Linked DNA regions of Homo sapiens. The protein of the gene in region 3 purifies or fractionates together with the protein of the main gene of each other region. This does not show direct contact. Each region holds a gene or a part of one and is shown on either strand. Other genes may lie near its edges.

Region 1 (3,651 bases), on a different chromosome or scaffold from region 3:
TTTGTGAGAGGCACAAATGTAATTTTTTATTTTTCAAAATAACATTAATATAATTTCTTCTATATTCCTTGTGCAAATCCTCAACCTTCTACATTAAAGAAGAGGCTAAATAGGAGGTATAAACTTGCTAAAATTTCTTATTAAAAAATAGTGCCAAGCGGCCGTGTGCAGTGACTCACACCTGTAATCCCAGCACTTTGGGAGGCCGAGGTGGGCGAATCACAAGGTCAGGAAATCGAGACCATCCTGGCTAACATGGTGAAACCCCGTCTCTACTAAAATACAAAAAATTACCCGGGCATGGTAGTGGGTGCCTGTAGTCCCAGCTACTCGGGAGGCTGAGGCAGGAGAATGGTGCGAACCCGGGAGGCAGAGCTTGCAGTGAGCCAAGATCGCGCCACTGCACTCCAGCCTGGGCGACAGAGCGAGACTCTATCTCAAAAAAAAAAAAAAAGAAAAAAAAAATAGTGCCAACCTAGGTGGTGACCACGTCTCTAATCCCAGCTATTCAGAAGGCTGAGGCAGGAGGACCACTTAAGCCTAGAAGTTCGAGTCCAGCCTGGGCAACATTCATGAGACTGTATCTCTATAAACAAACAAACAAACAAACAAATAAAACAGAAATAGTGGCACAACTTACTTTGCTACGTATTTGGGAGAACGCATATTAGTTAATCAAAATCATTTGCTGAAGGTTGTCTACATGCTGTATAAACAAGCTAGATAGACTCTACCTACATCAAATATGCAAAACTAGTGAAATAATTACAGAAGAGTAACCATTTGCTTCCAGGCTGGCTTCTTCTTCCCTGGAGAGCAAATTGGAGTTTATCCTAACCTGACACCTTTATGATCTTCTGATCATTTTATTCCTGGAATAGTTGTACTCCACATTTTGAAAAGTTAAAATGAAAATTATAGAACCCTCAACAAAGTTTGGTTGATGGAATTTCGATTTGACTGCTTCCGGCCACTTCTGAGTTTAGCAAAGGAGGCTCGTGTATATTCTTCATGGAATTTGGCTCCAAGAAAACTCAACTCAATTTCCTGGAATGGAGCGAATTTGTGACTTCGAAGGGAAGCATCTGCATTTCCTTTCCCAAAAATACTCCATTTGCATTAGACTGCTCCCTGTGACATTTCCACCAGATGGCAATACAGTCTTTGGATGACAGAGAGTCTTGCTGGTTTTCAAAATCTCTAGAAATATTTGTGTAGGCACTATAAAAAAGCATTTTTTATAAATGAAAAGCTCCCATAACTGCCCCCCATTCTAAAGCAACCATCTTTATTTGCATATATTCACTTTGAGTTTTTGTCAATATTCATACAGTCGTAAGTACATTTATAATGTGCATGGCATTTTAGTCTACTATCAAAATTCAGCACAATGTATATCATTTACATATTTCTACATGACCTTCATAATTATTGCAGCAGTTACATACTATTACACATAGTAAACCTTTCCCCTATTGTTACATAGTATGTAGTATGCACGTTTTCACCTGTTATAGATAATGCTGCAGGTAATGGCACACAATTGGCACACAGTTTTGGAACATTAGGAAGAATTTTAGGGATAGCAATACAGGGTGAAAGACATAGATGTCTTTTGCTCTTTAACTTTTCCAGAAAGATGTGCAGATTTACATGGCTATCAGCACTGTGAGAGGATCTGGGTTCTGACCAGTTGCACTATGCCCACGTTTTTGTTTTACTTCATTTTTTTAAATCCTAAAAGTCAGGTACAGGGTCTTTAGCCTGTAATACTAGCACTTTGGGAGACTGGCGGGAGGATTACTTGAGCTCAGGATTTCAAGACCAGCCTGGGCAACAGAGTGAGACCCAGTCTCTCCAAAGAAAAAAAAAAAAAGAAAGAAAGAAAAATAGGCAATGGCTCATGCCTGTAATCCCAGCACTTTGGGAGGCCAAGACAGGCAGATCACCTGAGGTCAAGAGTTTGAGACCAGCCTGGCCAGCATGGTGAAACCCCGTCTCTACTAAAAATACAAAAATTAGCTAGGCGTGGTGGTGGCGCCTGTAGTCCCAGCTACTTGAGAAGCCGAATTGCTTGAACCTGGGAGGCAGAGGCAGCAGTGAGCAGAGATCGGCCATTGCACTCCAGCTTGGGCCACAAGGGCGAAACTGCATCTCGAAAACAAAACAAAACAAAACCAAACCCAGGTGTGGTGGTGCATGCCTGTAGTCCCAGCTACTTGGGAGGTTGAAGCAAGAGAATCGCTTGAGCTGGGAGGTTGAGACTACAGTGAGCTGTGATTGCATGACTGTACTTCAGCCTGCGTGATGGAGCAAGACCTTGTCTCCAAAAATTATATATAAGGAAAGGACTTGAAAATGCATTTCTCCCGAACTAGGTGATGTTTCCGTGTGTGTGGCCCTTCTTCACAGTGGCCTCCTAGAAAAACAAGACCCTGACTCAAAGAACACCTCTCACTACAGTAAGACTTCTTGGAATGCTTTACTTTTTTAAAAATTTAATTTAATTGTTTAATGTGGTAAAAAATATATAACATAAAACGTAAAACTAACCAGCTTAACCATCTTAAGGGCACAATTCAGTGGCATTATGTACGTTCTCTTTGTTGTGCAACCATCACCACCACCCATCTCCAGAACTCTTTTAAAATCTTCCCAAACAGAAACTCTGTACCCATCAAACAACTCCCATTTCCTTCTCTCTTCACCTCTGGCAACCTCCATCCTACTTTTTCTTTATATGAGTTTGACGGCTCTAGGAACCTCTTATAGGTGAAATTATCCAGGTCTGTCTTTTTGTGACTAGCTGGTTTCACTTCGCATAATGTTCTCGAGGTCCATTCATGTTGTAACATGTGTCAGAATTTCTTCTCTTTCTAAGGCTGAAGAATATTCCATTGTATGGACCTACCACATTGCATGTATCTATTTATCCACTGAGGGACCCTTGGGTTGCTATGGAAAATAATGCAACTACGAACATGGACATCTGTTCCAGTCCTTGCTTTCAATTATTTTGTGTAGATGCACAGCAGTGGAATTGCTGGATCAGATGGTAATGCTATGTTTGCTTCACTACTTGGAATGTGCCTTTATGCATATCGTGATAAAATTTGATCTGTACGACAGTCCTGTGAGATAAGTAAGCATTGATCTCTGGTTCAGAAAAGTGATTTCTTCAAAGTGAAATGATGAACGGAAGAGTATCCTGACCTTAAACTTGGCTTTTTAAATTGCCCGTTCACCTTGAAGAGTGGTTCCAATCACAAGTGTTACCTTCCAAGGACAGTGTCATTCTGGTTATAATCAGCTTGCTCCCCTGCCCTGAGCCTTCTGTCCAAGTTTGTGCAGGTGTGGGTCTGGGGCAGGGGACAGCTCATCCATTTCCCACTGCACGGAACAGAGGCTGTGTCCAGGGCCCCAGCAACAAAGATTTCTCCTTTGGGTTTCTGTTTCCCTCTTTCAGTTCAGAGTCTGTCATCTGAACCATGAGGATCTGGTGGCTTCTGCTTGCCATTGAAATCTGCACAGGGAACATAAACTCACAGGACACCTGCAGGCAAGGGCACCCTGGAATCCCTGGGAACCCCGGTCACAATGGTCTGCCTGGAAGAGATGGACGAGACGGAGCGAAGGGTGACAAAGGCGATG
Region 2 (3,651 bases), on a different chromosome or scaffold from region 3:
GCAGTTTGTCCCGTCTCAAGCCTATGAGCATATCCTTTCAGATCTGAAGCCACTTCCTTCTTCCTATCAAGGACAGTATTATCAAGTGTCTTTGTGAGAGGAGCAATCCTGTGCCCCTTCTTGCAGATTGTTTTGTTCTGCTCAAGAAGCCCTAGATTCCTCCTTTATTTTCCTTTCCTTATTTCATTTGCTGCAGCAGCCCAGAAACCCCAAAAGCAGGACTGCCAGAAATGAGTGACCTTTATATCTCTCCACACTAACACATCTGAGGGAAACTGCCGACACCAAATATGTGTTCATGAGCTAATGAAGCAGAAATCCTCAAAGGAAGCACCATTTGCAACGGCTGAGGACAGAATTCTTTAGTGGACACCAAAAAGGCTGTGGAACTCCTATGCATTCTAACATCTCAGGTAACATTCTAATGGAGGAATAAGGAGGCTTACAACAAAGTCATACAACACAAACAGAAGTCTGAAAATGCTGGATTTCGCAAATTTCTTTTAAGACAAAACAACTTTACTAACCTTATACCATAGCAGCTTTCTTCTCTGTACTAAGTGAGGCCAGCAAGTAGGAGGCATTTCCAAGGGGGAAAAATGACCACAGGATCTAGCCAAAGCAACCTGTCTCTAATACTCTCAAAAAACAAACAAACAAAAACACTTTGATTTCCCAGATTCACTCTGCAGTGATTCTAAAACTTTCCTAATGTAAGAATCACCTGGCTATTTCTTGAACACACAAATTCCCAGATGACACTCCAGATGCACTGAATCAGAATCTCCATGAGAACACCTGAGCTATTCTTATCATAAGAGAGGTTAGGGAAACACTGCTTGATAAATGTTATTCTCCCACCAGTGCCCACCTGTGCAGGGAGGTATGAAACAAGTAGGGCTAAGATGCTTTACCTGAGCAATCACCTCAGACATGCTCCTCACTGGGTTTGACTCCTTTTATGGAGAGCTGGGTGTCAGCTCAGTAAAGTCTACAGACAAGCATCTCTTTGGGTCCCTATCACCTGCACAGGTCTCAGGACTCTGAGACAAATTTCTGAGTAGATGTCAATGAGGACAAGTCATGAGGAGACGGATTACAGCTGAATATAAGAAGATCTTTCTAAGAATTAGAGCTGGCCAAAGATGGAATAAACTGCTGTGGAGAGCTGTCTACCACAAGAGATGTTCAAGAAGAGAGAAAATATGGTACCTCTTGACTAGAATGTTGTAAACATCAGATCCAGCATGGGATGGACAGAAAGACTAGATGAATTTTAAAGTTCCCGCCAATGCATAAGTCAACAAAGAGGAAAATTTCAGCCACTCCTTAATTAATTAAAAGAGATAGCAAAAAAAGTCTGTGGGTGGGGTCAGCTTTCAACTGATCCTATCTCTTCAAAGGAAAAAAGAACATAGAAACACACTCCAACTCACCATCAGCCTCTCCTATAGAATGTTCTAAAGGTGGGAAAGCAGGAGTCATAGATGCTGTGACTAAGACCTGCTGCTCAGTTGACTCTGAATTTGGGGCACATGCCAGACAAGTTCTGTAGTACAGAGAAGAAATGTGTGTAGCACAGACCTGGCCCTCAAGGATCAAAATCATGTGGCAGAGACAACTCAACACCATGTGATTCTCTCAAATATTTATTCATCATATTTCATCTTTAGTTTTTGTCAGTAGGGTGTTCAGGGGACTCTCTTGGTTCAAAAAAAAAAAAAAGCAAATATACTTTACTAAATGTACATATTCTCTCAATCCAGTACAAGTTTGCAATATCCAACTCAATGAAAAAAATCTCAAAAAAAATTATCAAAATAAATATAAACTTAGTTAACTCTAATTTTAAAAATAGTATTCCAAAAATGACTAGTCCCCAAAATGATGAAATTACAATAAGGTGTGGCTATTCTGGACAAAATAACAGAAATTGCTGGCCTAGTAATACAGTAATACAGGAAGCAGTGGAAGCAAACTTGAGTGAGAGGCAGGGGGTGGATGGCAGTGCCTTTGAAGTGAGATTCCAAAGTCAAAGTGACCTTTATAAATTGCAGAAGTGATCAGAAAAAGAAAGAAAGAAACCCCACACACAAAGAAATTCAAAATTACAAGTTAAAATGAAACATCTGGGGAAGGGAAAAATTTGGTTTTTCCCCAAATGTAAGGTAAGCATGACTCCTGCAAATACTGTTTTTAAAATGTCTAGGAGTACCACAGTTGTCCAAAATAAGAAAATGGCTAAAAATAATTGTTCGACTGAACAAGTATTTATTGTGTGCCTATTAGATACCAAGGCATCATGCCAGGTACAGGGGTAGGGTATGGGCATTAGAATAAACACATAAATGAAAATACACGATTCCTTCCTCATGTACGCATTAACAATAAGCACTTGAGGATGTTATAAGAGTTTTTGTGCACATAAGCGCATTTGTACACGAGATGGAAGCAATGAGGACAGTGAATGAGGCACTGGACACCAGAAGAAAGGAATTCTAGTCTCAACTCTAATTGGCTCTGTGACCATGAACAATGAACATCAGAAAATGGAGGACGGAAACAGTGGCTCTCCTACAAGGTCACCAAACCAATTAATAACAGACCTGGAGAAGAATTCTGGTCTTCTGGCTCCTAGTTCAGTGATCTGTCCAAAATACTACACATACGGTAGGCTGACAAAGAAAGAAAAGAAGACCTTTTGGTTTCAAGTCATTTGCAGAGAAAGGGGGAGAAACAAAAACAGGAAAATCAGGAAAGGGTGGAAGGAAAATCAATAGTTCAAATTTAGGCATTCGAACTGAGACATCAAGAAAGGAAGCATGTAACTATGGACTGTGAACACAATATAAAGAAAATGATGTAAAATTTCTTATATCCTTATTCAAATCACGCCTTGCAGTTTTTTACTCTAAAATCATTGCAGACGTATATAGATAAAGGGTCAAAAAACAACATGTATGAATGACATTTAAGGAAAAAGAGATAACAGAAGAAAAGGGAAAAGGAGAGGTGGAGAATTTATTATATCATCTAAATATATGAAGCCCTTCTAAAGGGTCAATGCAGACATATTGCACCCAGATAAATAGAAGAAATGACATTATATTCTATATCTCTTACGTTAGCAATTTTTAAATTCCTTGAGTCAGAAGCGTTAAACACTGGAATGACTAAGGTTACATTTGTTATGGAAATTTCTTAAATTTAGAAAGACCTCATACACACACCTGAAGGTAAAAAAAAATGTACTTAATCAGTGGGTTGCAACCAAGTTACTTGTCAGAATCACCTGTAAACCTTGAAAAAATATGGATTCTCAAACTTACCTTATCAGAATCCCTGGGTGCTGAGTCCAAGATCCACCCCAACAGATTTTGATGTAGCCAGGACACAGAGTTTTTTCTACCATAATGGGAGAGGTAGGGAGGAGGATCACTAGGAATGGCAACACAGAGTGGGAACTAGATCAATGCAAATTTTGTGGGCAAAATAGAATTTCTGTGGGTGTGATATTTTTAAGATGTATTGTAAGGCTGCTCTGAACCATCCAAGCATATCCCACTGAATTTAAACATTCTCTAAAGGTCCTGAAGTCAGCAACTACAATCCAGGTGAACCAAAAGTTGCTCCTCTATGTCATAGAAGCCT
Region 3 (3,651 bases):
TTATTAACAGGAGCCAGGCTCATAAAGGCTGCGGAACGCGCTGCTCACGGACACATTGCACCTCGTCTCCAGGGCGGTGGGGAGGGTCGGCAAAGGGTTGGAATCCTGGTCCATCCTCCTCGGAGGGGGAGGGCTGGGGTGTGGACATCTCAGGCAGGTCTCTCAGGAGCTAGCATGAACAGGGTGGGAGGGACCGGCAGGGTGGGGTTGGGGACGCTGCTGCGGGGACTTAGATTGCACGGCAGGTGTTAAGTAGAGAGGCAGGACCGGCTGGTTCCGAGGAGAGGCTGAGAATGACAGACACCGACCGGTCCGGCAGGACTGCCCAGGTAAGGACAGCCAGAGGGACTCACACAGTTCCGACGGGAAACCTCTGTGGCCACGATTACTGGGTCTCCCACACAGGTGGTGACGGGGTAGCGGGGGGACACGCTGCTTTTAGAGGAGCCGGTGACGGGGATAAGGTGCTTTCAGAGGAGCCAAGAACAGGGAGCAGTGGGTAGGGGTGGAGGGTGGGCTCCAGTGGGCTCGAGGACCCAAGGCTGAGCTCCCAAGGCTCCCCTCAAGGCCACCATCATCACCGTCGCGCTGCGGCCGCACTCCAGGCTGCAGTCCATTGCTGGGGTGCCCCGGGGGTGTTGGCCCCATAGCCCCTGCCCTTCCCCCTGCCTCCCTTTCTCCCTCCCTCTTCCTGGTGAGGAAGCTGGCGGGGGCCACACCCTTCCTCTCCACAAGCCCAGAGATGGTTAAAATGAAAATTACAGTGGCCGGAGAGAAGGCACCAAGCAGGAAGCCAAAGATGGACGAGAGATGGGACGCCTTGGAAAAATCAGCCCCTCTCCTCTACTTCCAGGAAATAATGAGAATTATCTTCCACACTTTTCCACCCATCCCTCCCACCCATCAAGGACTTCTCCAAACTCTGAGGCTCCTGGAGGGGGCTCATCGGCAGGGGCTCTGCGCCCGCCGAGCTGGTCATTCACCTACGGGCTCAGCCAGGGGCAGGATTTTAAAGGGGGGAGGCGTTGAGGCCCCTGAGACGCTGCAGGACTCCGGCGTCCTGGAGAGCCAGGGACGGCACCACGTGCTCATGATCAGCATCAAGGCAGCATCCCCTCCCCTCCCACTGCCTGTGTCCACGATGCTGCTGCCCGGCCCTGGGCACCTGCTCACTGGGGCCTGCATTGGGGGGCCTTACACAGAGCCTGCACCCCAAACCCCAAGCACAGATGTGGCCAAGCCAGGAGCATCTGACACACAGCCCTGGGAGAAGCTGAAGAACAGACTGGAATCCTGGGACCTGCCTGGACTGTCTCGGGTCTGTGTACCCCAGAACCAGACAGCCCCCACCCACATTCCCCAAGCCACTGAACGGTGCCCGTTTCCCGGATTCCCTGGCCTGCAAACAGCAGCCCCACACGGCCTCAGCCAGGTCTGCTGGGCACAGGTCTGGGCACGGCCGGAAGCTGCACCTGACCACTCTCTGCCACCCCCATCCTGCGGGGTTTCCTCAGCATCCAAGGAAGGCGTCCGTGTCGCCTGCAGAGGCGGCTGGTGCAGGGCTGAGAGGTCCTGCCCGTAGTCAGCCAAATCCCAAGGTCCTGGGGCCGGGTCCCCTCCCGCCTGGCCCCCAGTGTGTACCCCTGGAGGAGCAGCCTGCCCCCGTGTTCCGGCCAACTCTTGGTCATCGGCGTGTCTCAGTTTACTCAAGGAAGCCGATTATGCAGCATGAACGCACCACGATCACACCAACGAAACCCACCGGAGCGGGGGATTTCCTCCTGGCTGGGCAGGGGACGGGGCTCACACACCCTCTCCTGTCCGGGGTTCCAGCCCACGGAGCCTCTGTCCTCCTGAGTCAGCACAAACTGGAACTTCTGACACACAGACGAGCTCGTCCACCTCCCGTGGGTCGTGCTGCCAGGCCAAAGGCTCAGGCTCACCTCAGGCTCGGCGGGGCTGGCGCTGCCCGGCTCAGCCTCCGTCGGCTCTCGCAGCTACAGCAAGTGCAGGAACGGGAGGCAAGGGAAACCGCGGCGCTGGCCGGAGAGTGCTGGGGAGCCGGCCTGGCCCAGGGGATGGCGTCACTGCTGCCAGACGGCCGGCACCGACATTCCACATTATGTACCCATTCCTGCAGCATTAAAGGCTTAGGGGCCCCCGTCCCCTGATGAAAGGCGAATACCCTGGGGAGAGGAGAGGTATCAGCCTCCTCGGATCCCTCCTGCCCCTCCACCCCATCAGGATAGGAGAGGCCTCTCGTGAGGGCCCTGGAGGTGCTCAGCCCAGGGAGGGGCCTGCATCTGTGCCCGTTCCCGTGAGATGCCAGGCGTGGGTCCCAGCTCCGGGGGCCCCCGGTGAACCTCAGAGTCTGGGCCCCTGTCAGTTCCGAGGATCCCTGCATGTCTGCTTCCTCGGATAAGCAACCCACCACCCACAGGGCACTGGAAATCACCTCAGGCTCGGTTTAAGCAGATGCCGCAGGGTCACCAAGTGTAAACAAGGAAACCCAAGCACCTGCCTCACAGGACACAGCAAAGTTCTGGGACCCCAAGCCAGCCTGACGTGTACTGGGGCCACAGACCTGCGCAGGACCCCACAGGCCCAGGAGGCACACGGAGGGTGAGCGAGGACCCACCGCCGAATGCCTGCTCTGGTCCCTTGGGGCTCAAGTCACTCCTCACAAGAGGCCGCTGCCTCCCTGCAACCCCACAGGACCCCAAGGCAGCTCAGCCCCTACCATCCCATGCCTCTCCCAAACCCACCCACCGCCCCAGCCTACACAGGGCCTGTAGGCCTCGGACCCCACCCCCAGAGGCAGGAGAGACAAAGTCTCTGTTCCCAAAGGTGAGGGCACAGGCTCCGTAAGGGTCGCCCCAGCTGACAACTAGAACCATTGAATTTCCCCTGGAAATGTAGAAATCGGGCCTGTGCCAGTGTGGACGTCCAGGTGTGCGTGGCAGGGACGGACTACACCACAGCCTCTCTAAGAATCTCACCCAGAAGCAGAACAAAGCTCAGGCCACAGAGCATGTGACCCGCAGCCCAACGTCTTCAAGACCAATCACCACTTTAATCAGCAGAAAGAATGTTTGCAAGTTCCTAACATCTGGCCCGGCACCTTCTACCTCCGGTTAGAAAGACTGAACTTGGAGCTTGGATTTCTCCAGGTTTCGCCTCATTGTGAGTTTTTCTCCAGGGCCCCCAGAGCAAGGCTGGTACCCCCTCCCCCAGGTCTCCCACCCACCATAACTGTTGGTGACCAAGATAAAGGCCGCCGTGGTTAAAGTTTTATCCAGCGTGCAACCAACCACAGCACAGCTGAGTTTACATCAGCGTCCAGCCCTGCGGGTGCTGAGGCCCAAGGGGCAGTCTGAGCTCATGGGCCAGCTGGGACTCGGGGCAGTCAGGACTCCAGGCAGACGGTCCTACACTCACTCTGTAAATGACCAGTCTACCTGGGAGAGATTTCAGAGAGAGATGAAAAGTAATCTAGGCCAAGAACATAGAACACAAAAATGTGGATTCCCATTCAGGATAGAAGTCTGTACACCCGAGTCCGAGGCCACACAGACCATGGAGGTCACACGGCCCACAGGTGCCTCCCAGGACCTCATGCCTCCTGGTGTCTACCCACAGAATTTTCTAGAG

What was found.
Region 1: the proteins of METRNL (region 3) and C1QTNF9 purify together in Homo sapiens (co-immunoprecipitation; one large-scale study listed by IntAct). This does not show direct contact.
Region 2: the proteins of METRNL (region 3) and NOTCH2 purify together in Homo sapiens (co-immunoprecipitation; one large-scale study listed by IntAct). This does not show direct contact.

What each region holds. Positions count from the first base shown.
Region 1 is NC_000013.11:24,312,516-24,316,166, forward strand, and holds part of C1QTNF9 (complement C1q and tumor necrosis factor-related protein 9A precursor), read left to right. Parts: intron 1-2,378; exon of another isoform or gene 2,379-2,462; intron 2,463-3,466; 5' UTR 3,467-3,488; coding exon 3,489-3,651. UniProt on the Homo sapiens protein: Probable adipokine. Activates AMPK, AKT, and p44/42 MAPK signaling pathways.
Region 2 is NC_000001.11:120,063,041-120,066,691, forward strand, and holds part of NOTCH2 (neurogenic locus notch homolog protein 2 isoform 1 preproprotein), read right to left. Parts: intron 1-3,651. UniProt on the Homo sapiens protein: Functions as a receptor for membrane-bound ligands Jagged-1 (JAG1), Jagged-2 (JAG2) and Delta-1 (DLL1) to regulate cell-fate determination.
Region 3 is NC_000017.11:83,086,078-83,089,728, reverse strand, and holds part of METRNL (meteorin-like protein isoform 1 precursor), read right to left. Parts: intron 1-3,651. UniProt on the Homo sapiens protein: Hormone induced following exercise or cold exposure that promotes energy expenditure. Induced either in the skeletal muscle after exercise or in adipose tissue following cold exposure and is present in the circulation.